Linked DNA regions of Homo sapiens: regions 1, 2, 3 and 5 are each linked to region 4. The links come from fine-mapping of genetic effects on gene expression. A gene starts in region 4. Each other region holds a variant in brackets. All regions are shown on one strand. Distances are between the middles of the regions. Region 1 has its middle 12 kb from the start of ARL1. Region 2 overlaps GNPTAB (N-acetylglucosamine-1-phosphate transferase subunits alpha and beta). Region 3 overlaps SYCP3 (synaptonemal complex protein 3). Region 4 holds the start of GNPTAB (N-acetylglucosamine-1-phosphate transferase subunits alpha and beta). Region 5 overlaps GNPTAB (N-acetylglucosamine-1-phosphate transferase subunits alpha and beta).

What was found.
Region 1: its variant is fine-mapped to the expression of GNPTAB in lung (TOPMed, PIP above 0.99).
Region 2: its variant is fine-mapped to the expression of GNPTAB in spinal cord (GTEx, PIP 0.92).
Region 3: its variant is fine-mapped to the expression of GNPTAB in whole blood (INTERVAL, PIP 0.96).
Region 5: its variant is fine-mapped to the expression of GNPTAB in blood mononuclear cells (TOPMed, PIP 0.93).

Annotation. Positions count from the first base shown.
Region 1 is chr12:101,416,612-101,422,779 of GRCh38, forward strand. No RefSeq gene overlaps it. Among named protein-coding and RNA genes, the nearest start is that of ARL1, 12 kb to the left of the region's middle. The variant G/A (reference allele first, on the strand shown) is at 3,721.
Region 2 is chr12:101,801,402-101,807,569 of GRCh38, forward strand. The region is part of intron 1 of GNPTAB (N-acetylglucosamine-1-phosphate transferase subunits alpha and beta); the gene reads right to left. Among named protein-coding and RNA genes, the nearest start is that of GNPTAB, 26 kb to the right of the region's middle. The variant T/G (reference allele first, on the strand shown) is at 2,550.
Region 3 is chr12:101,731,152-101,737,319 of GRCh38, forward strand. It overlaps SYCP3 (synaptonemal complex protein 3), which reads right to left. Exons shown (of 9, transcript NM_001177949.2): 3 at 6,081-6,147; 4 at 5,886-5,920; 5 at 3,776-3,893; 6 at 2,424-2,523; 7 at 417-515. Among named protein-coding and RNA genes, the nearest start is that of SYCP3, 5.2 kb to the right of the region's middle. The variant T/G (reference allele first, on the strand shown) is at 2,785.
Region 4 is chr12:101,828,762-101,833,942 of GRCh38, forward strand. It overlaps GNPTAB (N-acetylglucosamine-1-phosphate transferase subunits alpha and beta), which reads right to left and starts at 2,198. Exons shown (of 21, transcript NM_024312.5): 1 at 1,798-2,198. The coding sequence starts at 1,914. RefSeq lists silencers at 1,330-1,624, 1,981-2,380.
Region 5 is chr12:101,768,253-101,773,897 of GRCh38, forward strand. GNPTAB (N-acetylglucosamine-1-phosphate transferase subunits alpha and beta) reads right to left here. Exons shown (of 21, transcript NM_024312.5): 8 at 2,744-2,905; 9 at 2,154-2,333; 10 at 1,769-1,939. It also overlaps the pseudogene ST13P22. Among named protein-coding and RNA genes, the nearest start is that of SYCP3, 32 kb to the left of the region's middle. The variant G/A (reference allele first, on the strand shown) is at 3,312.

The DNA of each region.
Region 1 (6,168 bases), 410 kb before region 4:
AATTTTTTTATATTTTTAGTAGAGACAGGGTTTCACCGTGTTAGCCAGGATGGTCTCGATCTCCTGACCTCATGATCCACCTGTCTCGGCCTCCCAAAATGCTGGGATTACAGGCTCGAGCCACCGCGCCTGGCCAAAAGTTTTTAATTTTGTTGAAGTCCAGTGCTCTGGTTTGAATGTGTCCTCCAAAGTTCATGTGTTGGAAACATGATCCCCAATGCCACACTACTGAGAAGCGGGACATTTATGAGGTGATTAGATCATGAGGGCTTTATCCTCATGAATGAATTCATGTTGTTATCAAAGGAGTGGGTTTGTTATCACTAGAGTAAGTTTGTTATGAAAGCGAGTTCTGCCTTTTCTCTCAAGAATGCTCTCTTGCCCTTCCACCTTCTGCCATGGGATGACAGAGCAAGAAGGCCCTCACAGGATGCAGGCATCTTGATGTTGGACTTTCCAGCCTCCAGAATTGTGAGAAGTAATTTTTTCTTCTTTATAAATTACTCAGTCTACGATATTCTTTTATAACAACACAAAATGGACTAAGACATACAAGTTATCTATTTTTTTTTTCAGCTGGGTGTGGTGGCCCATGCCTGCAATCCTAGCACTTTGAAAGGCCGAGATAGGTGAACCACCTGAGGTCAGGAGTTCAAGACCAGCCTGGCCAACATTGCGAAACCCCGTCTCTACTAAAAATACAAAAATTAGCCAGGTGTGGTGGTACACACCTGTAATCCCAGTTACCCAGGAAGCTGAGGCAGGAGAATCCCTTGAGCCCAGGAGGTGGAGGTTGCAGCGAGCCAAGATTGTGCCACTGCACTCCAGCCTGGGCAACAGAGCAAGACTCTCAAAAAAAAAAAAATCTACTTTTTTCTTTTGTAGCTTGTGCTTTTGGTATCATATCTGAGAAACCATTGCCTAACCCAAGCTCACAAAGATTTACAGTTGTATTTTCTTCTAGGAGTTTTATTGTTTTAGCTCTTATATTTTGATCTTTTTCTATTTTGGGTTGATTTTTGCAAATCGTATGAAATATGGATCCAAATTCATTTGCTTGGCCAGGCTTGGGTGGCTCATGCCTGTAATCCCAGTACTTTGGGAGGGCAAGGCAGGCAGATCGCTTGAGGCCAGGAGTTTGAAACCAGCCTGGCCAACATGGTGAAACCTGTCTCTACTAAAAATACAAAAATTAGCCAGGTGTGGTGTTGCATGCTTGTAATCCCATCTACTCGGGAGGCTGAAGCAGGAGAATCACTTGAACTTGGGAGGTGGAGGTTTCAGTAAGCCAAGATTGCACCACTGCACTCCTGCCTGTGTGACAGAGAAAGACTGTCTCAAAAAAACAAAACAAAACAAAACAAACCCTGCCATGTGAATATCCAGTTGTCCTGGCACCTTTTGTTGAAGAAAGTAGACTTTCTCCATTAAATGGTCTTCACACCTTGTCAAAAATCAATTGATCATAGGTAATATAAATTTCTTTTTTCTTTTCTTTTTTTTTTGAGACAGAGTCTCTCTCTGTCGCCCAGGCTGAAGTGTAGTGGCGCAGTCTCCACTCACTGCAACTTCCACCTCCTGGGCTCAATCGATTCTCCTGCCTCAGCCTCCCAAGTAGCTGGGACTACATGTGTGTGCCACCACGCCAGGCTAATTTTTTTTTTTTTTTTGAGATGGAGTCTCACTCTGTTGCCCAAGCTGGAATGCAGTGGTGCAAACTCGACTCACCACAACCTCCACCTCCCAGGTTCAAGTGATTCTCCTGCCTCCTCCTCCCAAGTAGCTGAGATTACAGGCACCTGCCACCACGCCTGGCTGATTTTTTGTATGTTTAGTAGAGACAGGGTTTCACCATGTTGGCCAAGCTGGTCTTGAGCTCCTGACCTCAGGTGATCTGCCCACCTTGGACTCCCAAAGTGCTGGGATTACAGGTGTGAGCCACTGCACCCAGCCTCTTTTTTTCTTTTTTCCCTTTTTTTTTTTTTCTTTTGAGATGGGGTCTTGCTCTGTTACTTAGGCTGAAGTGCAGTGGCATAATCTCAGCTCACTACAACCTCTGCCACCCGGGCTCAAGTGATCCTCCCACCTAGGCTTCTGAGTAGCTGGAACTGCAGGTGTGCACCACCACACCCAGATAATTTTTGAATTTTTAGTAGAGACAGGGTTTCACCATGTTGCCAAGGCTGGTCTTAAACTTCTGAGCTCAAGTGATCTGCCTGCCTTGGCCTCCCAAAGTGCTGCTGGCATTGCAGAGATGAGCCACCACACTTGGCCCATCTTTTTTCTTTTTTTAAATAATTTTAACTAATTTTACAAAAAAAAAGTCAGTATTCATTTCACATTACTACATTACAAGTTTATTTCTGAATTTTCTTTTTTTTTTTTTTTCTGAGACAGAGTCTCCCTCTGTTGCCCAGGCTGGAGTACAGGGACACAATCTTGGCTCACTGCAACTTTCACCTCCTGGGTTCAAGTGATTCTCATGCCTCAGCCTCCCAAGTAGGTGGCATTACAGGTGCACACAACCATGCCTGGCTAATTTTTGTATTTTTAGTAGAAACGGGTTTTCACCATGTTGGCCAGGCTGATCTCAAACTCCTGGCCTCAAGTGATCCACCCACCTTGGCCTCCCAAAGTGCTGGGATTACAGGCATGAGCTACTGTGCCCAACCTCTGAATTATCAATTCTAGTCCATTGATGTATATGTTTATCTTTGTGCCAGTACCACACACACCGTGTTGATTTTTTTTTTTTTAATTTTGAGACAGAGCATTACTCTGTTGCCCAGATTGGAGTATGATGGTGCAATCATAGCTCACTATAGCCTCAAACTCCTGGACTCAAGCAATCCCCCTGCCTCAGTCTCCTGAATAGCAAGGACTATGAGTGTGCAACACTATCCCTGGCTAATTTTTTAATTTTTTGCAGAGATGGAGCCTCACTATGTCGCCCAGACTGGTCTTAAACTCCTGGCCTTGAGTGATCCTCCCACCTTAGCCTTCCAAAGTAGCTGTTGATTATAGTAGCTTTGTAGTAGGTTTTAAAATTAGGAAGTGTGAGTCCTCCAACTTTGTTCATTTCCTACTTTGTCTTGGCTATTCTGGGTCCCTTCCATTTCCATGTGAATTTTAGAATCAGTTTATTCATTTCTGCAAAAAAAAAAAAAGGCAGTTGGAATTTTTATAGGGATTACATTGAATCTGTAGATTAATTTGGGAAATGTCTTAGCTTTTTCCTGCTGCTATAACAAACTACCTTAGACTGAGTAATTTATAAACAATAGAAATTTATTTATCGTTGTTCTAGAGCTGGGAAGTCCAAGATCAACACACTAGCAGATTTGGTGCTTGGTAAGGATTGCTATCTGCTTCCAAGATGGCGCCTCTTGGTCCTTTCTCATATGGTTGAAGGACAAAAGGCATGGAGCACTCCTTTCTACCTTTTTTTTTGAGATGGAGTCTCACTCTGTCAGCAGGCTGGAGTGCAATGGCAAGATCTCGGCTCACTGCAACCTCCGCCTCCCAGGTTCAAGCGATTCTCCTGCCTCAGCCTCCCAAGTAGCTGGGACTACAGCACGTGCCACCACACCTGGCTAATTTTTGTATTTTTAGTAGGGACGGGGTTTCACCATGTTGGCCAGGATGGTCTCGACCTCCTGACCTCGTGATCCACCTGCCTCGGCCTCCCAAAGTGCTGGGATTACAGGCATGAGCCACCAC[G/A]CTCGGCCCCCTTCAACTTTTTTAAAAATAGTACTAATCCATACATGAGGTCAGAGCCCTTGTGAATTAATCCCTTCAATAGAAGTCCTACCTCTTAACACTGTCACATAAATAGAGTAGTTTCCCCTTATCTGTGGTGAACTTTTCGAGGTTTCACTTACCCATGGTCCACCTCGGTCCAAAAATATTAAATTGAAAATTCCAGAAATAATTCATAAGTTTTAAATTTCTTGCTATTCTGCGTAGCATGTTAAAATCTCACACCATCCTGCTCTGTGCTGTCCTGGATGTTAATTTTATCCCTTTGTTCAGCATATCCCTGCGGTATATGCTACCCACCTGCTAGTCACTTAGTAGCCATCTCAGTTATCAAATCAACTGTCACAGTATTACAGCGCTTGTGTTCAAGCAACTCTTGTTTTGCTTAATAATCACCCCAGGCTGGGCGCGGTGGCTCATGCCTGTAATCCCAACACTTCAGGTGGATCACCTGAGGTCAGGAGTTTGAGAACAGCCTGACCAATGTGGTGAAACCCCGTCTCTACTAAAAATACAAAATTAGCGGGACGCGGTGGCTCATGCCTGTAATCCCAGCACTTTGGGAGGCTGAGGTGGCAGATCATGAGGTCAGGAGTTCAAGACCAGCCTGGTCAACCTGATGAAACCCCGACTCTACTAAAAATACAAAAATTAGCTGGGCATGGTGGTGTGTGCCTGTAATCTCAGTTTACTCAGGAGGCTGAGTCAGGAGAATCACTTGAACCCCGGAGGCGGAGGTTCCAGTGAGCCGAGATCGTGCCCCGCATTCCAGCCTGAGCAACAGAGCAACACTCTATCTCACAAAAATAAATAAATAAATAAATAAATAAGCCGCGTATGGTGGCGCATGCCTGTAATCCCAGCTACTAGGGAGGCAGAGGCAGGAGAATCACCTGAACCCAGGAGGCAGTGGTTGTAGTGAGCTAAGATTGCACCATTGTACTCCAGCCTGTACGATAAGAGCGAAACTCCGTCACAAAAGAAAAAAAAAAGAAAAGAAAATCACCCCAAAATGCAAGAGTAGTGATCCTGGCCATTCTGATATGCCAAAAAGAAGCCTTTGCTTTTTCCAACCCTCCCTTCCATATTACTCATTTTCTGACTCCCATGCTTTGTACTCTGATGCAGTACTCTTAGTAATCAGCAGTGAGGAGATCTAGTCCTGGGCGCTCCAGAGCATTGTCATATACAGTTTGATACTATCTGCAGTTTCAGGCATCCACTGGGAGTCTTGAAACATATCCCCCATAGATAAGGTCAAGAGGAGGGTACCGTGTTGAATTCCAACATATGAATTTTGGAGGGATACCTACGTTCAAACCATAACAGGAAGTGCTGTCATCTTAACAACATTTATGGGCCAGGCACAGCAGTTTGTGCCGGTAATCCCAGCATTTTGGGAGGCCAATGCCTGGGTTTTGTAGGCCAAACCCAGGAGTTTGAGACCAGCCTGGGCAACATGGTAAAACCTCATAACTATTTAAAAAAAATAAAAAATTAGGCTGGGCGCGGTGGCTCACGCCTATAATCCCAGCATTTTGGGAGGCCAAGGCAGGCGGATCACGAAGTCAGGAGTTCGAGACCAGCCTGGCCAACATAGTGAAACCCCATCTCTACTAAAAATACAAAAATTAGCCGGGCGTGGTTGCATGCGCCTGTAGTCCCAGATACTTGAGAGGCTGAGGTGGGATAATCGCTTGAACTTGGGAGAAGGTGGTTGTAGTGAGCCGAGATCATGCCATGGCACTCCAGCCTGGGCGACAGAGTGAGACTCCCTCTCAAAAAAAAAAAAAAAAAAATTACAAAAATTAGCTGGGCATGGTGGCACACACCTGTAATCCTAGCTACTCAGAAGGCTGAGGTGAGAGGATCGATTGAGTTCAGAAAGTCAAGGTTGCAGTGAGCTGTGATCACACCACTGCACTCCAGCATGGGAAACAGAGAGAGACCTTGTCTGAAAAAAAAAAAAAAAAAAAACCATAAAAAACAATATTATATAGGCCAGGAGTGGTGGCTCATGCCTGTAATCCCAACACTTTGGGAGGCCGAGGTGGGTGGATCACCTGAGGCCAGGATTTCAAGTTCAGCCTGGCCAACATGGCGAAACCCCGTCTCTACTAAAAATACTAAAATTAGCCGGCGTGGTGGTGTGTGTCTGTAGTCTCAGCTACTCGGGAGGCTGAGGCAAGAGAATTACTTGAACCCAGGAGGCAGAGGTTGCAGTGAGCTGAGATTGTGCCATCACACTCCAGCCTGGACGACAGAGTGAGATACAAATACATATATAAATTTTTTTCAATGTTTTGGAGTTTTCAGTAACAGGTATTACAGTTCTTTGGTTAAACTTACTTATTTTGTTGAGACAAATGGTTCTTAACCTGACATTCTGTTAATTCACAGTAGACTTCT
Region 2 (6,168 bases), 27 kb before region 4:
TGGTGGGATGTGCCTGTAGTCTCAGCTACCTGGGAGGCTGAAGCGGCAGAATCGCTTGAGCCTAGGAGGTGGAAGTTGCAGTGAGCATTTACTGTGCCACTGCACTCTAGCCTGGGTGACAGAAAGAGACCCTGTCTCAAAAAAAAAAAAAAAAAAAAAAAAAAAACTGGAAAAAAATTTAAAAAAGAGCAAGGCCTTAAGGACCCAAACTCCTTCCTCTCTGGAACAGATGAGACTTCCCCTTCCTTCTTTCTTCTCTATTCTCCTCTCTTTCTCTGGCCCGCCAAAATCTGTCCCTTTAAAGTTAAAGGAGGCTGTATGAAGGAAAAAAATAAAAATAAAACAATTTGGTTAAACTAGCCTGAGTGTGGTGGCTCATGTCTGTAATTCCAGCACTTTGCAAGGCCAAGAAGGGAGGATCGATTGAAGTCGGGCATTCGAGACCAGCTGGGGCAACATAGTAAGACCTTGTCTCTTCAAAAAAAAGAAAAAATTTTTTTTAATTAGCCAGGCATGGTGGCGCACACCTGGAGTCCAGCTACTCAGGAGGCCAAGGCTGGAGGATGGCTTGAAGTCAGGAGTTCATGGCCAGCCTGGGCAACAAACTGAGATCCTGTCTCAGAACAACCAAACAAACAAAAACAAATCAATTCGCCGGGCATGGTGCATGCCTGTAGTCCCAGCTACTTGAGAGGGTAAGGTGGGAGGATCACTTTAGCCCAAGAGTTGGAGGCTGAAGTGAGCCATGATTGTACCAGTACACTCAAGCCTGGATGACAGAGCAAGACCCTGTCTCTTAAAAAAAAAAAAAAAAAAGAAAAGAAAAGAAAAAAAGAAAAAGGAAAGAAGAAAGAAAGAAATGAAAATTAAACTTATTGACAATTCCTCTAGACCCCAAATTTCTTTTGTTCTTTGGAGCAAGGCTGAACTTCGTGCCATTGCCAGGGAACTTCCAGAGGTTACTGGGGACCCTCACCAATTTGCTGATTAATTGGACATAGTAACTTAGGGTTATCAGCCAGGTTTTTCTGACCCACAGTAGGTGGTTCACATTCTTGTCAGTGAAGGTCAGGCACAACACTGGATGGTCAAGGCTCACTGCCATGATCCTGAGGGGGATTTAGACAAAAACACCCCTAAAGACTATGGATAGAGTCAAAGGCATAGAAGGAAAAAAAAACACTCCACAAGTCTGTTCTCGAGGCTCTTCCTAAAGCCTTAGACTGGAAAAACCTCCAGGCCTGTGCCCAAGAAAGAACCTAATGTACAACTATTACAGTAGGCTCCAGGCTGTATTTAAAGAAAATGTTGAATCTACTCAAGTAGCCTTTTATTCCATGTTAGTGAACAGCCTTTCTCAAGAACTCTCCCAGCTGGTCAAAAGGGCCCGAACAGAATGGGAAACTGTGCCTACCTCTGATCTAGTTAATTTGGCAAATCAGCTTGCCAGCACCCTTGAGGACAATACTAAAAAGAAAACCACTAAAATCCTTAATCTCCAGTTACGGCAGATGGAGACTCCCGGACATAACACCATGAGGAGACCTCCTGGGCTATGCCACTTCTGTAAGAAGCCAGGACTCGAAAAGAGTGCTGAAAAAGATGGAATCTCTCATCAACTTTAATGAATCTCCAGGGAATTAGGCTGAGTTTAAAAAAAAAAGTCTCAAAAGTCCAGAAAGTAGACTCAGAAAGTGATACCCCAAAGACTGGCACTTTAACATGCCAAGAGGCCTTAGAAGCTGCCTCAGAATCAAGGTCCCTCTAACCTTGTCTTCCCTCCAACAAGGGAAAAAGAAAAGATAAATGTACCATGTTCCTAGATTACAAAAAGTCTTCTTAGTTTCTGAAAACAAAATTTGTTTTGCATGGAGGCACTAAAAGAAAGACTAAGATATATTAAAGATATTTTAAGCTTTATCTTTTCTACTAAACCTCCTCCTCCTATGATATTAACCAGGAAGTAAAATCTGCTGATTGCCAGCAGCATTTCTAATCACATTCGATTAAAGACACCCATTTTCCTGATGCAAAGTGGCTTAATGCAATAAAGCACAACTTTAAAAAATTAGGAGTTCAATGGTTATTAACACAGGAATGATTTCTTCTCTTCACATAAATTAAAGGAAATGATTCAAACCGAAGATGGATGACCACTATTTAGTCAAACACTAATTAAACTCAGACATTTTTCTAGACCATGGCTACCCTCTTTGGATTCTCTACCGCAATAGACACACAACATAACAGATTTTTTAAGGAAGACAAAATGGAAATCAGGGCTCTGTCCTCAAGGAGCTGACATTCCTGTTAAGGATTAAACATTTATTTGCATGAAATGATGTAGGACTACTGTGTAGCTTTTAAATGAGTACAGATTAAAATATAATAAACACTGTTAGACAAAAGGAATAATCATGACATATTTTTCCACGGAGAGAGAGCTGAGATTTTTATGGAAATAAAGGAGTAGAGAAAAAAGAAAGATTTGTTTGCCAGTTGGGGAGTAGGGAAGAAAATTGTATTAGAAGTCAGAATTAAGAATACTG[T/G]CTAGGCATGGTGGCTCGTGCCTGTAATCCCAGTACTTTGGGAGGCCGAGGTGGGAGGATCGCTTGAGCCTGGAAGTTCAAGACCAGTCTGGGCAATATAGTAAGACCTTGTCTCTATTTAAAAAAAAAAAATTTTTAAAGTTAGCCAAGCCTGGTAGCACTCACTGGCAGGAGAATTGCTTGAGCCCAGGAGCCGGAGGTTGCGGTGAACCAAGATCAGCATCACTGCACTACAGCCTGGGTGACAGAGTGAGACTGTCTCAAAAAAACAAAACAAAAAAAGTATTGCTTTGTGCTTTGACAATGCACTCTACTATATAAAAGTCATATCTAAAAGAAAACAAAAAGAACCCTTAGCAATCACACTTGGCTAAAAGGAAAAGAGAGAAAGAGAAAAAAAAAAAGAACCAACGAACTACCAAAAATACTTTCAAAAAGTATTCAAACCGACTTTCTGAATATATCTATGTTGTTTGTTTTATTGCTCAGAGTTTTCAGAATCACCGAATTCTACAGGAAGAACTTTGAATCCAGTGCCCTACTCTGCAGCCAATGTTTGAGTTCTTGTTATAATGTCCTGGCAAATAGTTATTCTACCTATGAGGGTAGACCTGCACTGTCCAATATGGTATGTGGCCACAAGTCATTATTTAAAACGTAAACTAAGTAATATAAGAAATTCACTACCTTAATCACCTAGCCACATTTCAAGCACTCAGTAGCCACATGCAGTTAGTGGTCACCATAATGGGCCAAATAGAAATACAGATTTTGGTCACGGCACTAAGTTTGTTTAGTGCTGCAGCTATTCAAACCTTAAAGACTGTCACAAAAATACACAAGGTGGCAAGTCAGAACAACTGGACCTAAGCTCCAGTTTTGTGATTTTAGACAAGTCAACTTAACCCTAAATTTCAACTGTAAAATTTAAATAATACTATCTTATCCCCTAAGGGGTTGTTAGAAAATTCAAGTGAGCTGATAAAATATTCTGACAACTACAAAGTACTATAGGATGTATAAGGTATTAAAATTATGATACAACACTGAACTTATTACAACCCACAAGGGGCTCACAGACTACTGGGGAGACAAATATGATGCAAATAATTAAAATATATCATGTGAAAAAAAAATTACCAACATATGAACAAAAAATGGTTTAACTTGGTATATACTTTTAGTATAATTAGTAAACCAGAAGCCAAACTAGTCAAATTAAGATTTTCAAATTTTATTTTTGCAAAATTGTCATAAAAAAGTTTACTGAAATGAAGTTTTGCACAATATCTGTTTGTGAAACTTAATGTATTTACCTCCACTAACAAGTGAATTTTATTTCACACTGTTACCTAAAAATATTTTTAAAATACACCAAGAAGAGGACTTTTAAAAAATGAATTTGAAATGCTAAAAAGTCATAAAAGGTGAAAAGAATGTTTTTGTTTTTGTTTTGAGACAGGGTCTTGCTTTGTCACCCAGGCTGGAGTGCAGTGGCGTCATCAAGGTTCACTGCAGCCTTGATGTACTGAGCCTAGGGCTCAGGCAATCCTCCCATCTCAGCCTCCTGCGTAGCTGCGACTACAGGTGCACATCACTACGTCTGGCTAATTTTTGGATTTTTTTGTCAAGATGGGGTTTCACCACATTGCCCAGGTTAGTCTCAAACTCCTGGGCTCATGCGATCTGCCTGCTTCTGCCTCCCAAAATGCTGGGATTCAGGCCTGAGCCAGGTCAAGAATGTTATTTTTTTAAAAAATAGCTGCTAGGCCATTTAAAAAAATTGCTCCTTTCTTGAGGAGCAATTGGCAGTGTGTACCAAAGAAACAAACAAATAAATGTTCATGCCTTTTGATCTGGTTAATTCCACTACAAGAAACATATGCCGAGGAAATTATCATAGATCCACCCAAAGGCTTCTGTACGATAATCACCATTATTACCGATAAAAACGAAATATCTAATGTTTAGATCATTAAACATGATTTAAAAATTAAACAGGAAATTGAGTAATTATGGTACATTCATATAAATATGATAAAGCTATTAAAAAATCACATTTTCAAACAATCGTTTAAAACATAGTAACTTAATTTTCTCAGTCAATAAATATTATGTGGCATCATTCTAGATTCTGAGGACATAGCAATGACCAAAACAAAGTTTCTTCCTTTGTGGAGCATTACAAAGTAGTCAAGGGATAAAGTGTTTGATAAAACATTATATAAAAAAAGCAACAATCAAAACTATTAGTCTGGAGCTAGACATCAGCAAAATGGTGGAACAGGCTGCTACAATTTTTCTTTCCCCATGTAAACACAGACAAACAAGCCAAAACTGCCAAAATAACAACAAGAAACAAAAACACAAATATTGTATGATTCCATTATATAAAATATCTAGAACAGGCAAATCCATAGAAACAGAAAGTAGATTAGAGGCAACCAGGAGCTAAAGGAAGAGATGACTGAGGAATTTAATGGTTACAAAGTTCCTGTTTGGGGCGATGAAAAAGTTTGGGAAATAGTCAGTGGTGATGATTGCACAACTTTGTATATGTAACTAATGCCACTGAGTTATATAATTAAAAATAGCTAAAATGGCAAATTTTATGTTATATATGTTTAACCACAATAATTTAAAAGAAAAGTAAATCACTACAATACCTTCCCCCCTAAAAAATTAAGGAGCATTATGAACAACTCTGTCTCCACAGACTTTATAATTTGGATGAAATGGACCAACTCCTTGAAACACATGATCCAAAAACTCAAAAAACGAGAGAGGTCATCTGAATAGGGCTATATCTATAAAAAAATTTGAATCAATAATTAATAACCTTCCAAAATAGAAAGCCCCAGACCCAGATGGCTTCACTGGTGAATTTTACCAAACACTTAAGGAAAAAAAAAATGATACCACTTCTCTACAATCTCTTTCAGAAAATGGAAGCAGAGAGAACATTTCCTAATTCATTCTATGAGGCCAAAACTACCCTAATACCAAAACAAGGCAAAGACATTACAAGAAAGGAAACTTATAAACCACTATCTCTCATGAACACAGATGCGAAAACCCTCAGTAAAATATTATCAAATCAAATCCAACAATATATAAAAAGAATTATTTACCACAACCAACTGGGATTCATCCCAGGTATACAAGCCTGGTTTAACAACCAAAAATCAATTCATAAAATCCTTCACATCAACAAGCTAAAGAAGAAAAATTGTATGACGATACCAATAGATGCAGAAAAAGCATTTGACAATCCAACATTAATTTATGATAAAAATGTTCAGCAAACTAGGAATACAGGAGAACTTCCTCAGTTTGATAGAGCATCCACAAAAACAGTTTCACCTAATATCATACTTAGTGATGAGAAACTACATGCTTTCCTCCTAAAACCAGGAACAAGACAAGTGTGGACTCCTCCTCCCATCACCATTCTTATTCAAAATTGTACCTGAAGTCCTAGCTGATGCAGTAAGACAAAAAAAGGAAATAAAAGGTAAACAGATTGAGAAGGATGAAATAAAACTATCTTGGTTTGAATAGAAGAAAAAAAAAACTGTCTTTGTTCACCGATGACATGACTGTCTATGTAGAAAATCCC
Region 3 (6,168 bases), 97 kb before region 4:
TATAATACATTTGAAAACAAGAGAATTCAATAATTTGGGTACTTTCTATTTAACAAACACTGGGGATAAAAAAACAAGTAAAATACAACCTAAAAATGATTATTATAGAGTCTATTTTCACTTAAACAGAGAACTATGACTGAAGTGTTATTAAAGTATGGATTTTATGCATGATAAGTATATTTCTAAGTAAAATTCCCAATTTACCATTTCCTGTCTTGAATAATCCCAACAAAACCATTTGAATCCTCAAGTAAAAATATATTTATCACTTAAATCAGAAACAATGAATTCAAAATGGAAAAGTAGTTAAAGTCTAAAATGTTTTTTCCCATAAACTTAGAAAGAATTATCTTCTACTTCCATAAATATATTATGTTTTATAACGATGTATTGTGTTACCACATACAACAAACCTTTATGAACTGCTCATATAACTGTTTAATTGTTTTCAATCTCTGGCTCTGAACAATTCTAGATTGTTGAAGAATCTTTTGTTGCTGTCGAAACATATTCTACAAATATAAAAGAAAAAAAACTGTGTAATAACAATTTGGGTAAAATTTTAAATTTAGAAAAAATAATTCTACATTAAACTTAAAAGAAAGTGTTAAAAATCAATGCTTTTAAAATTTTAACAACTATTATGACCACATTTAGATAATTTATGTTCACCACTAATATGTAACAATATATTAATTCTACCAGTTGCTGAATGGGAAATTTTAACAATAATCAAGTCATGTCTTAATTCTTGGTGATTTCAATGTCCACACAGATGATCCTTCCAATAATAATGGTTTTCCGTTTCGTGACCTGTTTCTCAATGATTTTGGCCTCTACCCTACTTTAGCCATTGACTTACATACTCCCACCCTAGATTTTGTCATTACTAATAATTCTAACCACTACACAGTATTAGTAATGGTAAACTTTCTAAGAGATAGATACTCAGCATTCCCCTTTCATAGATGAGTAAACTGAGGCATAATCTGTCCATGGTTTCACAGCTACAATTGCTCAAACAAGAATTTGATCCAAAACAGTATTGTTGCTGGCATCCAGGCTCTAACCATTATACATACTGTTTCTCTGTCTATCCTAGTATTTAACCACTACTTCTTTACCATTCTAACTTACTCTTTTTAGTACTACAGCTCAATAATCTATCAGTGCCACAAATCCATCCTATCTATTTTACACTGTCATCCCTACCCCCAATATCCTCACTTGCAGGTAACACAAGTCTGGCCATTAAAAGTCAACAATGTTCTGACTACAGACATCCTTAGGTATCCTGGGGGGACCAGTTCCAGGACACCCAACCCCTCAGGAGACCAAAATGTGCAGATGCTCGAGTTCCTGTTACAAAATGGCATCATATTTGCATATAACCAATGCACATCCTTCCACATACTTTAAATCATTTCTAGATCTCTTATAATACCTAACACAATGTAAATGCTGTATAGTTGTAACACTGGATTATTTTTCCAATTTGCATTTTTTCTTTTTTCTTTTTTTTTTTTTTTCAAGAAAGGGTCTCCCTCTGTCACCCAGGCTGGAGTGCAGTGGCACAATCTCGGCTCACTGCAGCCTCCGCCTCCCAGGTTCAAGTGATTCTCCCGCCTCAGCCTCCTGAGTAACTTGGATTATAGGCACACGCCATCACAGCCCGGCTAATTTTTGTATTTCTAGTAGAGATGGGTTTTCACCATATTGGTCAGGCTGGTCTCAAACTCCCAACCTCAGGTGATCCACCCGCCTCGGCCTCCCAAAGTGCTGGGATTACAGGCATGAACCACCACCACGCCCAGCCTTTTCCAAATATTTTTCATCCACGATTGGTTGAATACACAGATGCGGAACCCTTATATACAGAGGGCTAACTATACAATGATTGGTTCAAGAATGGGCAAATGATCCAAACTCCCATCAGTCATATTTTCCCAGAGGAATTTTTTGCCAGAGCTATTGAGAAAGATTTTCTCAGTCCACTGGGGTTACTAAACTTGTAATAAGCCTAGGACTGTAAAAACTATCTTGCTTACTACATCAAGACACCTTACTAAGTACTGATGACAGAACCCAGATGACACTACATGAGCAACCCCCTCCCTGTTCCCATCTGGCTATGCCTGAAGCTAAACTGCCCCGACTTCTTTTACATAAACCAATGATCCTTCTTTTGTACTTTGACAAATTTCTGTCACTTGGAAATGCAGGAACCCCAAACAATATAAATGCCTTTTATGAGTATGGTATGTGCCTATACGTCTGTGGTTTACAGTTCAGTAGGTTTAAAACACATGGCCAGCAATGGTTAATGAAACCTGGCTCAGTTCCACTGGTCACAATAAAAGGCTAGGTTGTCCATTCCTACTTGAGACTTGGTTGATTATAAACCTAATCATGATACCAACAAGTATTTTTTCTTCTTGTTCCTCAGCTTTCTGCATATCTAAATCCCACTGCTGAAACAAAGTCAGAAACTGCTGAGAATATTCTTGGTTAAGCTTCTGCCTGTAAAACATAATGATGAATTATTGTCATATTTCATACCAATATAAAAAGAATTTAAAACAAAACTGAGTTGACACAGTTATACTATATAAGAAAAGGAAATACCTGCAGCTTAAGTCTTCTGATGGGAAACCAAAAAGTAAAATTATGATTTACACTGATTCCAGAAGTATTTTTTTTCTAACAAACTAATAGAAGAAAAGCCCTGTCACAAGCTTTAGCTCTTGAAAACTAAGGAAGTTTTATTGTATATATAAATTT[T/G]CAAAAAGAAATTCATCTGATCTCTAAGCAGTTTATTTTTCATTTTTTTCCTATTGAATATAGATTCTGATATAACAAATACATTAAATAAGGTGATTGTATTTATCCTATAAGATTTCTAAATAGAAATAGTTCGCTTAATTTTTTTCCCTATTTTGGCTTAACAAAAGATTTTATACAAAAGAAGAGTTAAGTCAGCTAAAACATACAAATTATATACGATACAAGATTGGTGTTCTTCTACATTGTTGAACATAATTCACCATCATAAGACTAACGGTTTTTATGACATTTACCTTTTATTCAACTAGTGTATTTCTAGAATGAACATAAATTACTTTTAGGCTGGGCATGGTGGTTCATGCCTATAATCCCAGCACTTGGGAGGCTGAGGTGAGAGGATCGCTTGAGCCTAGGAGTTCAAGACCAGCCTGGGCAACATAATGAGACCCCCATCTCATAAAACAACAACAAAAAACGAAATTACTTTTATAACCTCACTTGTTACCTAAAAGGAAAAAAGTGATCTTTATTGATTTTTTAGGAAATAATGTCAATTCTATGAAGGAGTGAGGTTATAGGGCTACAGGACTATCATACTTAGAGAAAAATCAAGCCAAATACATTTTCACTAGAAACCCCAGTAACTAGAATAGTATTTTTCTTTTCTTGTTTTTTTTGACAGAGTCTCACTCTGTTGCCCAGGCTAGAGTGCAGTGTCACGACCTTGGCTCACTGTAACCTCTGCCTCCTAGGTTCAAGCGAGCACGCCTGGTTAATTTTTGTATTTTTAGTAGAGATGGAGTTTCACCATGTTGGCCAGGCTGGTCTCTAACTCCTGACCTCAAGTGATCTGCCTGCCTTGGCCTCCCAAAGTGCTGGGATTACTGGCATGAGCCACCGTGCCGATCCTAGAATAGTATTTTTCATAAGTAATTTATACCAGTAAATACTAAGAAATGTGGCTCTAAAAAAAAAGCAACCACCTTACCTTTGATCTTGTTGTGTTTTCCAAACATGTTCAATTTTCTGGTTACTAGTTTTGAGAGAAGCCTTGGTATACATTTCTAGTCTCTTTCTCTTGGCAAGAAGAGCCTTGTTAATGTCAACTAGATTGAAAATAAAAATTCATTAAAATTTAATGTTGAAAAAAGTATTTTGTTCCCACATATTCAAGTAAATATGGGTAAGGTTGGTTCAACAATATTGGAAAGACATTTAAACTTAAATTTAGAAATAGGCATAATTTCAAAATGCAGAATTGTTTGCTTACTTTTTTTTTCTGAGAAAACTCTCAGCTACTAGCACCCAAATTCTGATTTTCCTAACTGGAGATAATTTTTTAACTTAGGAACAATAAAAAAGAGCTAATAAACAAAACAATGTGTCAAGGACAGACTTTAAATTTCCCCATGAGAAAACACTGTTAATAAAGGCTAAATGTAGGCCAGACGCGGTGGCTCACACCTGTAATCCCAGCACTTTGGGAGTCTGAGGCAGGCAGATCACAAGGTCAAAAGATCGAGACCATCCTGACCAACGTGGTGAAAGCCTGTCTCTACTAAAAATACAAAAATTAGCTGGGCGTGGTGGCGCACACCTGTAGTCACAACTACTTGGCAGACTGAGGCAGGAGAATCGCTTGAACCCGGGAGGCAGAGGTTGCAGTGAGCTGAGATTGCACCACTGCACTCCAGCCTGGGGACAGAGTGAGACTCCGTCTCAAAAATAAAAAAAAATTTTTAAAAAGGCTAAATTTATCTAAATTTATAAAATACACCCCAATTAAAAGGACACATTTCAATGAATTATTGTTAGAACTCATTATAGAAAATATGTAAAAGTACTCTATTAGAAAGAATCCAAAAAGGATAAAAATAGTTAAAGAAGAAAACTATTTTTAATATAATCAATTTTATATATATATATATATATATTTTTTTTTTTTTAAAGACACGGGGGTCTCACTATGTTGACCAAGCTGGTCTTGAACTCCTGGCCTCAAGCAATCCTCCTGCCTTGGCCTTCCAAAGTGCTGGAATTACAGGTGTGAGCCCCTGTGCCTGGCCATCAATGATACTTTTAAATACATTTTTTACTAAGAGACAAAGACCAAGGACAGAAAAAAATCTTAGTTTAAGTAAATTTCTAGATAAATTAAGATCACTTTATTTTTCAATGAGAAATAGGTGAATAAGATCAGTTTTAAATGCTTTTGTGGAGCTCTTTATTGGGCATTTTTACCCATAAGAACTGCATTTCATAAAATGTTTACTACTTCAAATAATGCTTTGCTAAACATAAGCCTTTATCTTATGGATCTACCATAAATAGGTATCTTTCAGTAATCATGCTGTAGCTGCACTATTACATAAATATTTTATACTTTCAGTATTATCTATAATAAATTTATAAAACAAGCACTGTTTCACCACCGGACAGAGCAAAGGTTTCAAAAAAGAGTTGACTGTATGAACAATCCATTTAGAGGAGCTAAATATTAACTCTTTTTTAAGATAACTAATCTCTAACAAAGCTCATATTATTGATACTTAATATATTATTTAAAACTTGAGAATTTTTGAACCTAATTATAAAACTCTATCTAGCAAAATTGTCTTTAGTATCAACTACATAGTTTATTAATGTAAAAAGAGTTATTTTAGAGGCTTAATTTACACTGTCCTCCCTAAAGAAAATAGCATAGGAAGTCAGAAAATAACTAAACTGAAAAAATGAAAAACTTATATACAAATATATGTATGTATGTATATGTGTGTGTGTGTGTGTGTGTGTGTGTGTGTGTATCACTTAGTCTGTGAATACAAAGAAGGGTAAAGACTTTTCCTGTGCATTTTTCTTCTAAAATTCCATAGTCCATTAAATTCACATATGTATAAAATACCATTCACTCTTAACATCATGGAAAAGATTAACTATGAAAATCTGTGATGCTAAATCACAAATACTTATGCAGAATCTTCTATGTGAGAACAAGGCATTAAATAACAGTCTTATAGTCCATTATTAACATTTGTTATTATACAAATTATATGGCTTAAAACAATTTTCTTTAAATACAAGTATCTCCTAAAACCTACCTCCAACTCCTTCCAGCATATTCTGCACTTCACCCCTGGAAAGAAATTACATTTTAAACACTTTAGAAGATCCACAACATACCATGCTTGTTTTGGAAGAAATACCAGATGCCAAGTATTTTACATATATTATTTGTTAGCAACTTTTCTTGAAGTGCTTTATCTAAGAAACAAAAATTATTTTGAACACGTTACCCCATATCTTCAACTACTCCTGCAGAAGACCTTTTCTTCCTACGTTTCTCAATGACTGCAGTCTTCCCTGTATTGACAATTAAAAAAA
Region 4 (5,181 bases):
TTAGCTGGATTCTAATGCAAATGCATCCATTTCATCACCTATAAAATGGTTATAATAATAGCACCTATCCCACAGGGGTGATGTTGTGAGGATTAAATCAGTTAACATATGTAAAGCAATTAAGAGAGTGCCTGATACCTGTTAAGACCAATATAAGTATTAGCTATTATTATGATCATTATCAACTGGAGTCAGCAATCAAGGCCAAATCTGCCTAATCATGCAGCTCCTCTTTTCCATTATGCCTTACAAGTTAACCACAGGCCAGCTGCCTTCACCTCTCATGACACCTGTTGGCACTGTCTGCCTCTCATTTCTCTTGTCTGTTCCAAACCTTATGATCTGTGGCCATTTCAGGACTGCAACAAAATGTCTCTCTTTTGGTAAACAGCCAAGCATGGAATGAAAGCAAAAAGAAAAGGATATAAAATGAAAAATTCGGGCCAGGTGCGGTGGCTTACACCTGTAATCCCAACACTTTGGGAGGCCAAGGCAGGCAGATCACTTGAGGTCAGAAGTTTGAGACCAGCCTGGCCAACATAGTGAAACTCCATCTCTACTAAAAATACAAAAATTAGCTGTGCATGGTGGTACGCGCCTGTAGTCCCAGCTACTCAGGAGGCTGAGGTAGGAGAATTTCTTGAACCTGAGAGGTAGAGGTTGCAATGAGCCGAGATGGAGCCACTGCATTCCAGCCTGGGCAACAGAGCAAGACTCTGTCTCAAAAAAATAAAATAAAATGAAGAATTCTAACACCTGATGCCTTTAAGTCATCTTCACACTGCATGGGACTTAATAAACAGTTAACTCAAAATTAATCAAGGCCAAAAAAATCACACAAAAGCAATAAGGCACCTAACTACACACAGATACATTAAGTTGCAACACATGAAACAAAGACGAGCAAGTACTATAATATTAAGTACATATTTCACACTTACAAATCTGGAGCTTTCTCACCCTTATGGTAAGACATTTTTTCCCAGCCTCTAGAACCAAGAACTACTAAAAAAGTACATGCTCAGAATTCATGCCATATAATTTAGCCATTAAACAAACACTTGCACTGCATTCTCTGGCAGTACCTGGCACTGTGCTTGGGCCAGGGTTACAGTATTTACAGACAGCACCTTCTCTTACGGAGCTTACAATCCAGCATGGGTAAAGACTTCAAGCAAATGTATACTGTGGCATTTCTAAAAACTACTCTGTTAAATTTTAAAACCTTTTGTAACCTCCTACCAAAAAAAAAAAAAAAAAAGAAAAAGAAAAAAACTAAAACTAAGGAACAGATTTCAAACCACTTAAAAATACAGCTTTCCTCCCCGTTGCTAAAAGTGGCTTTCTTGGGCCAGGTGCGGTAGCTCATGCCTGTAACCCCAGCACTTTAGAAAGCCAAGAAGGGAGGATCACTTGAGCCCAGGACTTCCAGACCAACCTGGGCAACATAGGGAGACCTCCGTCTCTATTTTTAAAAAACGGTGGGCGAGGGAGCAATATCTAAAATCACATACATGCCTTTTTCCAGTTCTGACTTGCTCATAGTCTCTGCACACGTTTATGATAAAGAATACTGTATTTGGCCGGGAGCGGTGGCTCACGCCTGTAATCCCAGCACTCGGGGACGCCGAGACAGGGCGATCGCCTGAGCTCAGGAGTTCGAGACCAGCCTGGGCAACATGGCAAAACCCCGTCTCTAATAATGAAAAAATACATACTGTATCGGGGCATCGCGGGGCACGGCGAGGGCAGTGCAGGGTCGAGGCGCCCGGTCCAGGCTGCGGCGCCGCTACTCACCTCTCCGAACTGGAAGGCGGAGACGATGGTGACAACGACGCCCAAGAAGCACACGTAGAGCCCATACCTGTGGGACAGGCAGGTATAGGTCTGTCTCTGCAGGAGCTTGAACAGCATCACCCCTTCACCGCCACGCCACGCCCCGAGGAGCCTGAGCCGCCGCCGCCGCCGCCGCCGCCTCAGCGAGCCGCCATTCAGGGGCCCCGGTCGGGCCGCCGCGCGCAGGTCACAGCCTCCGGGCGCCGCTCATTGCAGCTCCGGCGACGGACGCCCGCTCGGCTCCGCGCCGCGGCCGCCGCTTCCGGGAGCCGGGAGCCCACGCCCTCGGCGCGGCGGAGGCGGACCTGCGGCCGGCGAGGCGGCCGGCGCCGCCCGGGTCTGGCCGGGCGAGAGGCGGCTGCGGCGGCGGCGGGGTCTCCAGCGCCACCTGGAGGACGGAGGGGCATAGGGAAGGTGCGCGCCCTCCCCACCTGCGCTTGCGCAGCGGGCCCTGAGGGCTGGGCTGGGAGGGGCGGAGCTGAGCTGGGATCCACTTACCCGGTTGGGCAGGCGACCAAGAGAAAACTGCCCCCTGCGTCGAGACTGTGCCATAGACGGTACTATAATGCCATGAATATTTTTGTGCATAAAACCTTCTCTGCACTTAGCATTCTCTGCAGAGTGCTAAAAGGAGATGCTGTATGTGGCTCCTTTCCTCCAACCCCCAACTATATTGTTTGAAAGAGGAAACCTTTGGGTTAAATCTGCCAAAACCGAATTTCGTTCATTCATTTAGTCGTTAAATATGTAATTTGTGCCTGTTAGGTGGCATAGTGCTTGGTGTCAGGTATTCAAAAATGAACTAGACCTGGCTACTGTTCTCAGAGAGTCTAGTGGGGGAGATAAACATGTAAACCACTAAATACAAGAGTTGTTATGATAGAAATCATGCGATGAACTGGAGGGGAACCAGCTCAGGGGTGGCCAGGTAATCCGACTTTGACAGCAGGTTTTTCCCACGAGATCCTTTCCTTGGTGCCTCTGATTTACGAAAGGGAGATCTTTTTCTTAATCCCAATGCACCCTAGTCAATAAGATTTTTTTCCTAGTCACCCTGGGAAACAATACACTTATCTAATGTTGCCATCATTCAAAGCATTTTTAAAAATATCTTGGGAACCAGCTTCAGGAAATACTCAAATTCGCACCCTCAGTTTGATGGTCAGGTGGAATTAACAGACTTGCAAAAGGGGTTAGCTTCACTCCAATCCAAGGCAAGATTTTTTACACTTTGCAGTCACTTCTTTTAATCCTTCTTTTAAAAAAGATGATTGATATATGCTATATGTACATGGCAAAAGATTATTGCAGTTGTACAAGACACATATAGTTCTGAGGTCTTTTCAAGCATGATAACAGATCTGAGGACTTAATCAGAAGGGGTAAAAAAGCATGGTAACAGATATAAAAACATCTGCCACTCAACAGGACTCTCAGGATAATGGCCAACATTTATGTAGCATCTGCCATGTGCCCAGCTCATCTAATCCTCACAATAATCTTATAATGGAGATACCATTATTATCCCCATTCTACAGATCAAGAAACTGTGATGAAAAAAAGTAACTATCTAACATCACACAAATAGTAAATGACAGAATTGAGATTTGAACCAGGTACTTAGGCTGTAGAACAGGGCCAAGATTAGGGGAAGGTACTGTGAAATGAGTCATGCAAGTTTGGAGTGAGATTCTGTCTTTGTTTATAGTTTTGATATCGGGGCTGGGTGTGGTGGCTCATGCATGTAATCCCAATACTTTGGGAGGTCAATGTGGGAGGATAGCTTGAGCCCAGGAGTCTGGGAGCCCAGAAGTTTGAGACCAGCCTGGGTAACAGACCCTGTTCCTATTAAAATAAAAAAAAAATTTAAAACGTAAAATAAAACATAAAGTTTGGGTGTTTTGCTTTTCATGGATATTCTTCAGTAATGTTTTTTGTTTTTTTTGTTTTTTGGGTTTTTTTTTTTTTTTTGAGACAGAGTCTTGCTCTGTTGCCCAGGCTGGGTTGCAGTGGCGTGATCTCAGCTCACTGCAACATCCGCCTCCTGGCTTCAAGCAATTCTCCTGACTCAGCCTCCTGAGTAGCTGGGATTACAGGCACATGCCACCACCCCCGGCTAATTTTTGCATTTTTAGTAGAGATGGGGTTTCAGCATCTTGGTCAGGCTGGTCTTGAACTCCTGACCTCAAGTGATTCACCTGCCTTGACCTCCCAAAGTGCTAGGATTACAAGCATGAGCCACTGCGCCCAACCATTAATTTTGATTTTTTAAAAATATTGCATTAGGCTGGGCACGGTGGCTCACGCCTATAATCCCAGCACTTTGGGAGGCTGAGGCGAGTGGATCACCTGAGGTCAGGAGTCTGAGACCAGCCTGACCAACATGGAGAAACCCCATCTCTACTAAAAATACAAAATTAGCAGGGCATGGTGGCACATGCCTGTAATCCCAGCTACTCAGGAAGCTGAGGCAGGAGAATCACTTGAACCCGGGAGGCAGAGGTTGCGGTCAGCCGAGATCGTGCCATTGCACTCCAGCCTGGGCAACAAGAGTGAAACTCCATCTAATAAAAAAAAAAAAAAAAATATATATATATAGCATTAAAATATTATTCCTCTTGATTAGTGAGTTTTTTGGAGTTCCCTCGGATTTTCCACCCAAGACAAGTGCTTCACTGTCCTCACTTTAGTCCTAGCCTTGCCTAGAACCTGTCCTTCTTAAAAAGTATGCTTTGTTGTAGTATGAATTACCCTTAAATTTTTCCTTTATCTTTAGGCTCCAACTAGACAGCCTCAAGGGAGGTCAGGAGCATTGTCTAAGTCCTTTCTTCTAGAGAACTTGCTCTTGTTCACTCCCTTTTCCCCCTCCTCAGGCAGTATGGTTGAACTTAAATAAAATAAATGTGGGTGCAATATGATATACCTGTAGTAGCTACCTTATACAGTTAGGAGGGTTATGTAAAATAACACATGAAAATGCTCAAGTGCCTGCGACATTTTTAGTGTTGGAAAAATTTAAGAAAATTAACATTTAGCCTTGTTCTGAAAGCAATGAGGTTTTCAGCAGGAGAATTAACTGATTAAATATGCACTTCAAGAACATTAGTAGTATGTAAATGCATAAGTTGTGGAAATTATTTTTTTAAATTTTTTGTAGAGACAGGGTCTCACTATGTTGCCCAGGCTGGTGTTGAACTTCTGGGCTCAAGCAATCCTCCCACTTTGGCCTCCCAACATGCTGGGAGCCACCTCACCTGGCCTGGAAATGATTTTAAACTCTCCACATCTGAACAGTGGAAAAAATATGCAGTAGCATCCCATTTATCTGGAAATATTTTATCTGGC
Region 5 (5,645 bases), 60 kb before region 4:
TCTCTAGAAAGATTAAAATTTTCAAAGGGCTCAGCGTTCACACTCACAAGTGCTTTAAGTTTGCCTGTACCTACAGTCATTGTTTAGATCCTGCTGCGTTGACCGTTCTTACTGAGCGTATTTACTTTTTTTCCATTACTCAAGGAAAGCAGACAAGGATTCAACTCATGGATTAGTCTCTCATAACATGCTTTGATAATCTACTATGAAATAAAGTAGCACCATGCCAGACTTGACTGCAAGTACCAAAGCATGTCAAAGCTGGTGGGAAGTATGCACAGTCACTGCTTTTCTGTAACTATCAGTAGCTCATTAGTGTATTTGTGCATAATCTTGTCTCAAGGCTGAGAGACAATATCCTCTCTCTTCAAGCTTAAGGCCCTGTGATAAATTAACTGGCATAGCATTCTGAGCTGTGCATTCACCTGCTCTCAGAATTAGTGATGGGGTACATGGTTTTTCAAATTTAAAATCATTGAAAAAAAATACACTCCTCTTTAAAAATCTCTGTGCCTTTGCATATTCTAATTGGAATGTCTTTTTTAACCTAAACTAATTCTTACTTGTTCTTCTCAGTACATGTCAATTCAGATGGGCTTTCTTCCCTATCCTATCTGATTTAAGCCTCCTTTGCTCACACTCCTCAGCACCAAGGCACACCTGTCAGCAGGAAAAGCACCACACAGTCATTGATCTTGTTTGTCCCCTTGTTAAGCCACAAGCTCAACTTTGAGCCCTACAGTCTGATACAGAGGAGACAACTCAATAGGGGAACAGGAGAATGGGCCTGGTTGGGTAGCATAAACAATTACAGACAAAGTAGTTTTGTGTTATTAGCACTTACAGTTGCAGAGTTTTATAACTTCTAAGTTTACGGTGATAAGTCTCTAACTTATCACTGAACCCTTCTAACAACGCTACAAGGGTATTTGTACTTTCCTCACTATGCCAGAAAACACAGAGGTAGAGCCACTGCCCAAGGTCATCCTGAAGAGTTGGCCCCTAAGTCTGTACTCTTAACCACTTCTCCATCCCACCTCTCACAAAGTTAGAGTGCAACAGGCTACCTTAAATGAAATTACATCTATAGCTTTAAGCACTAACTTGAGTTAACTTTCTATTTTGGCCATTTTGCTGATATTCTAACCATGATTGTCTGTTTCACAGTGATTTTGCTTTTTCTGCTATCGTAGTAGAAAATTGAGATGGTTGGGAAAAAGTGTGGGTCCTGGGTGTCTAAGAATGCAGGAAAGCAAATTTCTAACTGTAGTGTTCTTACTTCTTAATTGCTGATTTCTGAGCTTAGCACTCAAAAATGATTATTTGATCTCATATATCTATATATATTTTTTTATTTTTCAAGATCCGGTTCTCACTCTGTCACCCAAGCTGGGGTGCAGTGGCACAATCACAGCTCACTGCAGCCTCAACATTCAGGCTAAAGCAATCTTCCCATCTTGGCCAGTGACCCCCTACTCCCCCCACGGCCCCCCAACACCCAAGCAGCTGGGACTACATGAGTATTCCACCGGGCCCAGATAATTATTTTACTTTTTGTAAAGACAGGGGTCTCACTATGCTTCCCAAGCTGGTCTCAAACCCCTAGGTGGTCAAGTGATCCACCCACCTCCGCCTCCCAAAGTACTGGGATTACAGGTGTGAGCCACCATGTCTGGCCTGATATTTGACTACAGTAGTATGTGCACTCATTTTCTGATTTGCTAAGTGACTTCCACGCTAGACAACCCCCCTCCTCTTAGGCACTCACCTTCTGGCCTTTGGAGTGACTGTAAAAATCATCTGGCCAGACATCCTTCCCAAACATGACATCATCATTTAGGTAAATAAACTTCTGGGACAGCCCTTCGATGCGATGAATGTGACTTTCAATAGCAGGTGAACTAAAGGTAGGCAAGTGGCTCAAATTTCGAAAAACATCCTTTTAACAACAACAAACAAAAAAAGAGAGTGAATGAGAGCTGTTTGGGTTTGGTTTAGTTTTTGAAAGGAAGGAAGGGAAGGCAATGAAGAGCTAGAGAAAGGAAGAAATGGAGGTAGAAGGGTAAAGGGAATGAAATTATGGAAATCCCTGTACCACACTAAAAGAGCAGAATTAGAAATCACAGTCTTGTAATTTTTAGAAAGTCCTGTACCTGGTGTGTTACTATTGTCACTCGAGGATTGTCAAGGTTCAGCCAGGATGGAATCTGCCCGTTGGTGACAATGAAAATATTCCGAACCCATGGTGCATGCCTCTCGATAGATCGCAATGAGTACCTCAGTTCTTCGTTATCTTCAAAACGACTGGCAGAGATGTCTTCATCCTGCTTAGACTGAGAAAAACACTTGGCATATGAAGATGTGAAATACCCCTTAAGTCATACCTCCTCCTCTTTGTCCTTTCCTTCTGCCCGTCTGCTCTCAAGGTGCTCTGGCAGACTTTTAAAGATGGAGTCCTAATTTTAAACATTACAAAAAATGCAAAAGATTCAGTATATATATTTTTAAACCCAAAATTCAAAGAGACAGCATTTCTATAACACACTTTATGAAGAAGGTTCTTGGATCTGATTCTAGGTGACTTCAGTTAATACCAAACCAATGGCAGTGACTGAAAAATTAGAAAAATTCCAATCAACTCACCTCTCTGTAAGTCCCCTTCCCTCTTCTAATATAGTAACTTACACATTTTTAACATCTTAACCTTTGATTTGGGCTGTAAAAGCTTCTGTGCATCCCTTACCTGGCTGATGGCGCTCAGATCCCATAATAAATATGCAGGACTTATGGTCAGTTCTTTTCCATCAATGGTCATGTTCTTCTTAGTTTGCTTATTCAATTCTTGAAAATCCTTGGGGTTATTCAGTTTTAGAAGCGCTACACTGGCCTCTGAATACAACTGCAACTATCAAATAACAAGAGGATTACACATGAAAAGACTGAATCTCAAGGATGAAGCACCTTTAAATTCCCACTCTGCTCTTTAATCTTTCCTTTTTTTTTTTTTTTTGAGACACAGTCTCGCTCTGTCGCCAGGCTGGAGCGCAGTGGCACGATCTCTGCTCACCTCAACCTCCGCCTCCCGGGTTCAAGCGATTCTCCTGCCTCAGCCTCCTGAGTAGCTGGGACTACAGGACTGCATCATCACGCCCGGCAAACTTTTGTACTTTTAGTAGAGACAGGGTTTCACCATGTTGGCCACGCTGGTCTCCAACTCCTGACCTCAGGTGATCCACCTGCCTTGGCCTCCCAAAGTGCTGGGATTACAGGCGTGAGCCACTGCAACTGGCCTGATCTTTAATCTTGAAATG[G/A]TAAGACAATATCAAAACACAACAAAAAGACCTACACAGACCAGATGCATTTCCCAAATGAATGTTAAAAAAATAGGCGTCTAAAAACAAGAAGGAATGGTAAAGGCAGTGGCAAACTGGACACCTCAGAGCCATCTGAGAGCTGCAACCACTCAATGGCACCAAGTGCTGCCAGATCTCCTGAGAGGCAAGAATCCCCAACTGTTGTATGAAATCTCCCCAATTTTTCAATGTTGGCTCAAATGATTTTTGACTTCTTTGCAAGTACACCTGCTGGCCAACAGTTCTGTGACTTTTCTTCTAGAATATTACCAATCTGCTTATATTGGGCAAAAAATCTGCAATGTAATTAACCTTGCTGGAATTGGTGACAAGTACATCTGCTAGTGGGGTGTCTGAACAGCTTTTGTGCCACGTGCCTGGGAGGAGCACCTTCGGCAGGACTGCCTGAAGTGCTTCCATGGGAAAACTACCTTTTGGGGCAAAGCTTTTGGGGCAATCATAAATCTAAGCGTGAACATCACAAACATCAAGTTCCACAAACAGGCTTTGCCACCCCTACGAAAGTCCACACCACTCTTTATCTGTTTTCTGTTCTGACTCTGTATCACACAACTTCCTATGAAGAGGCTTTCATCACTCAGGAAAAGGGGAGAGGCCTGAAAACCACAAATGTAGGACAGTAAAATCCTTCTGCTGAACTAGTGCTTCTAAAAGAGCTTACGGTCTTCTTTCTCAATCTATAAAACAAAGCAAACACAAATTTTATTATGAGCTTATTCTGAGCTCTTCTATTTGCTGCATGACTATTCTTAGCTCATTTTCTAAGCAGTTTCCTGAGCGTATGTAGTCCAGAACACCAGAGGTGAGAGTTAGAAATTTCATTTATATCTTTTCCCCTTATGATGTAGGCCATTAACTCTTCTCACAGATTAGGTGCAGGTGCATGTGTGAGCACCTGCAGATGCATGTAACTGTCTTCCTGACTCACCACTTTCACCTCTTTTACTTAGTGAGTGCCTGGCACATATTTAGTACTCACTAAGTTGGTTCTCACTGAGTCACCAACTTGCCTCAGCATATGTGCCGGGTGCTGGGAGGCAGGCCACACAGGGGGATTAGTAGTCTGCCTGGGTCCCTGTCTACCCTCTGGCCTTTCCTGTCCCTTTCCTCCCTCTCACAGCACCCCCAAAGCATTTCTGAGGGCTCCCTGGAGAGAAAAAGTCACTATTCTAGAACAATTTATTTACTTATTTTTATTTCTATTTTTTGAGACGGAGTCTGACTCTGTCGTGCAGGCTGGAGTGCAGTGATGTGATCTCGGCTCACTGCAACCTCCATCTCCCGGGTTCAAGTGATTCTCCTGCCTCAGACTCCCGAGTAGCTGGGATTACAGGCAAGCACCACCATGCCCAGCTAATATTTTTTGTATTTTTAGTAGAGGCAGGATTTCATCACATTGGCCAGGCTGGTCTCCTGACATACAATCTGCCCGCCTCGGCCTCCCAAAGTGCTGGGATTACAGGCGTAAGCCACCAGGCCTGACCTCCATCTCCCATTTCTTGAGGGGAATCAGTGTCTGGTTCAATCACAGCTTCGTTATCAATTTCTAGATCACTTTCCTCACTTGATAGTTCGTCTGTGCTTATGTTTTCCTCCACCTTCTTACTACCTGTTTTTAATTCCTTGATATTTTCTTCTGATTTATAATAGCTTTCTGAGTAGCACATGGTACTTCACCCCCCATGCTCTCCACCTGCTCCCTCAGAAAGCACATTTCCTTGGTATGCAGAATGCTCGGATCCTGCTTATACATTTTCACGAAGTCCCGAAGCTCGTTCACTTTGCGAAGGTCCAGGGTCGGAAGGCAGTGGGCGAAGCTGAGGGGCTGCAGGCCAGTTTCAGGCCCAGGCACTGGCTTGGCGTAACCTCGAAGAAGGGGTGTGTCTAGTTTAATTTCATAACTTGTGTTGGCTCTTTGTTTGATAAGAAGGTATATCACTAAAACTATTCTTTTTAGTGCCTAGGGTTGGTTTCTAATTATATATGCATAAAAGAGCAAGAAGAGGTTTGTCTATAGTAACTATACAATAATTCGGAAAGAGATGAAGATTAATGAGGTTAAGGTAATATTTATATGTATGAGAAAGATTTTCTGCCACTGTAAAAAGGGTGGGGAAGTACCCTCTGACAGCCACTAGGTGGCACCCCAATCCTGGACATCATCATTACTTTTGTCAGAAGAGAGAAGGTAGTGTGGGAAGAGCAGCTGTAGTTTGTGCCTAAGGCTGGAGTTTGTGGCTTGGGCAATTGTGGGCAACTGCCTCCATATAT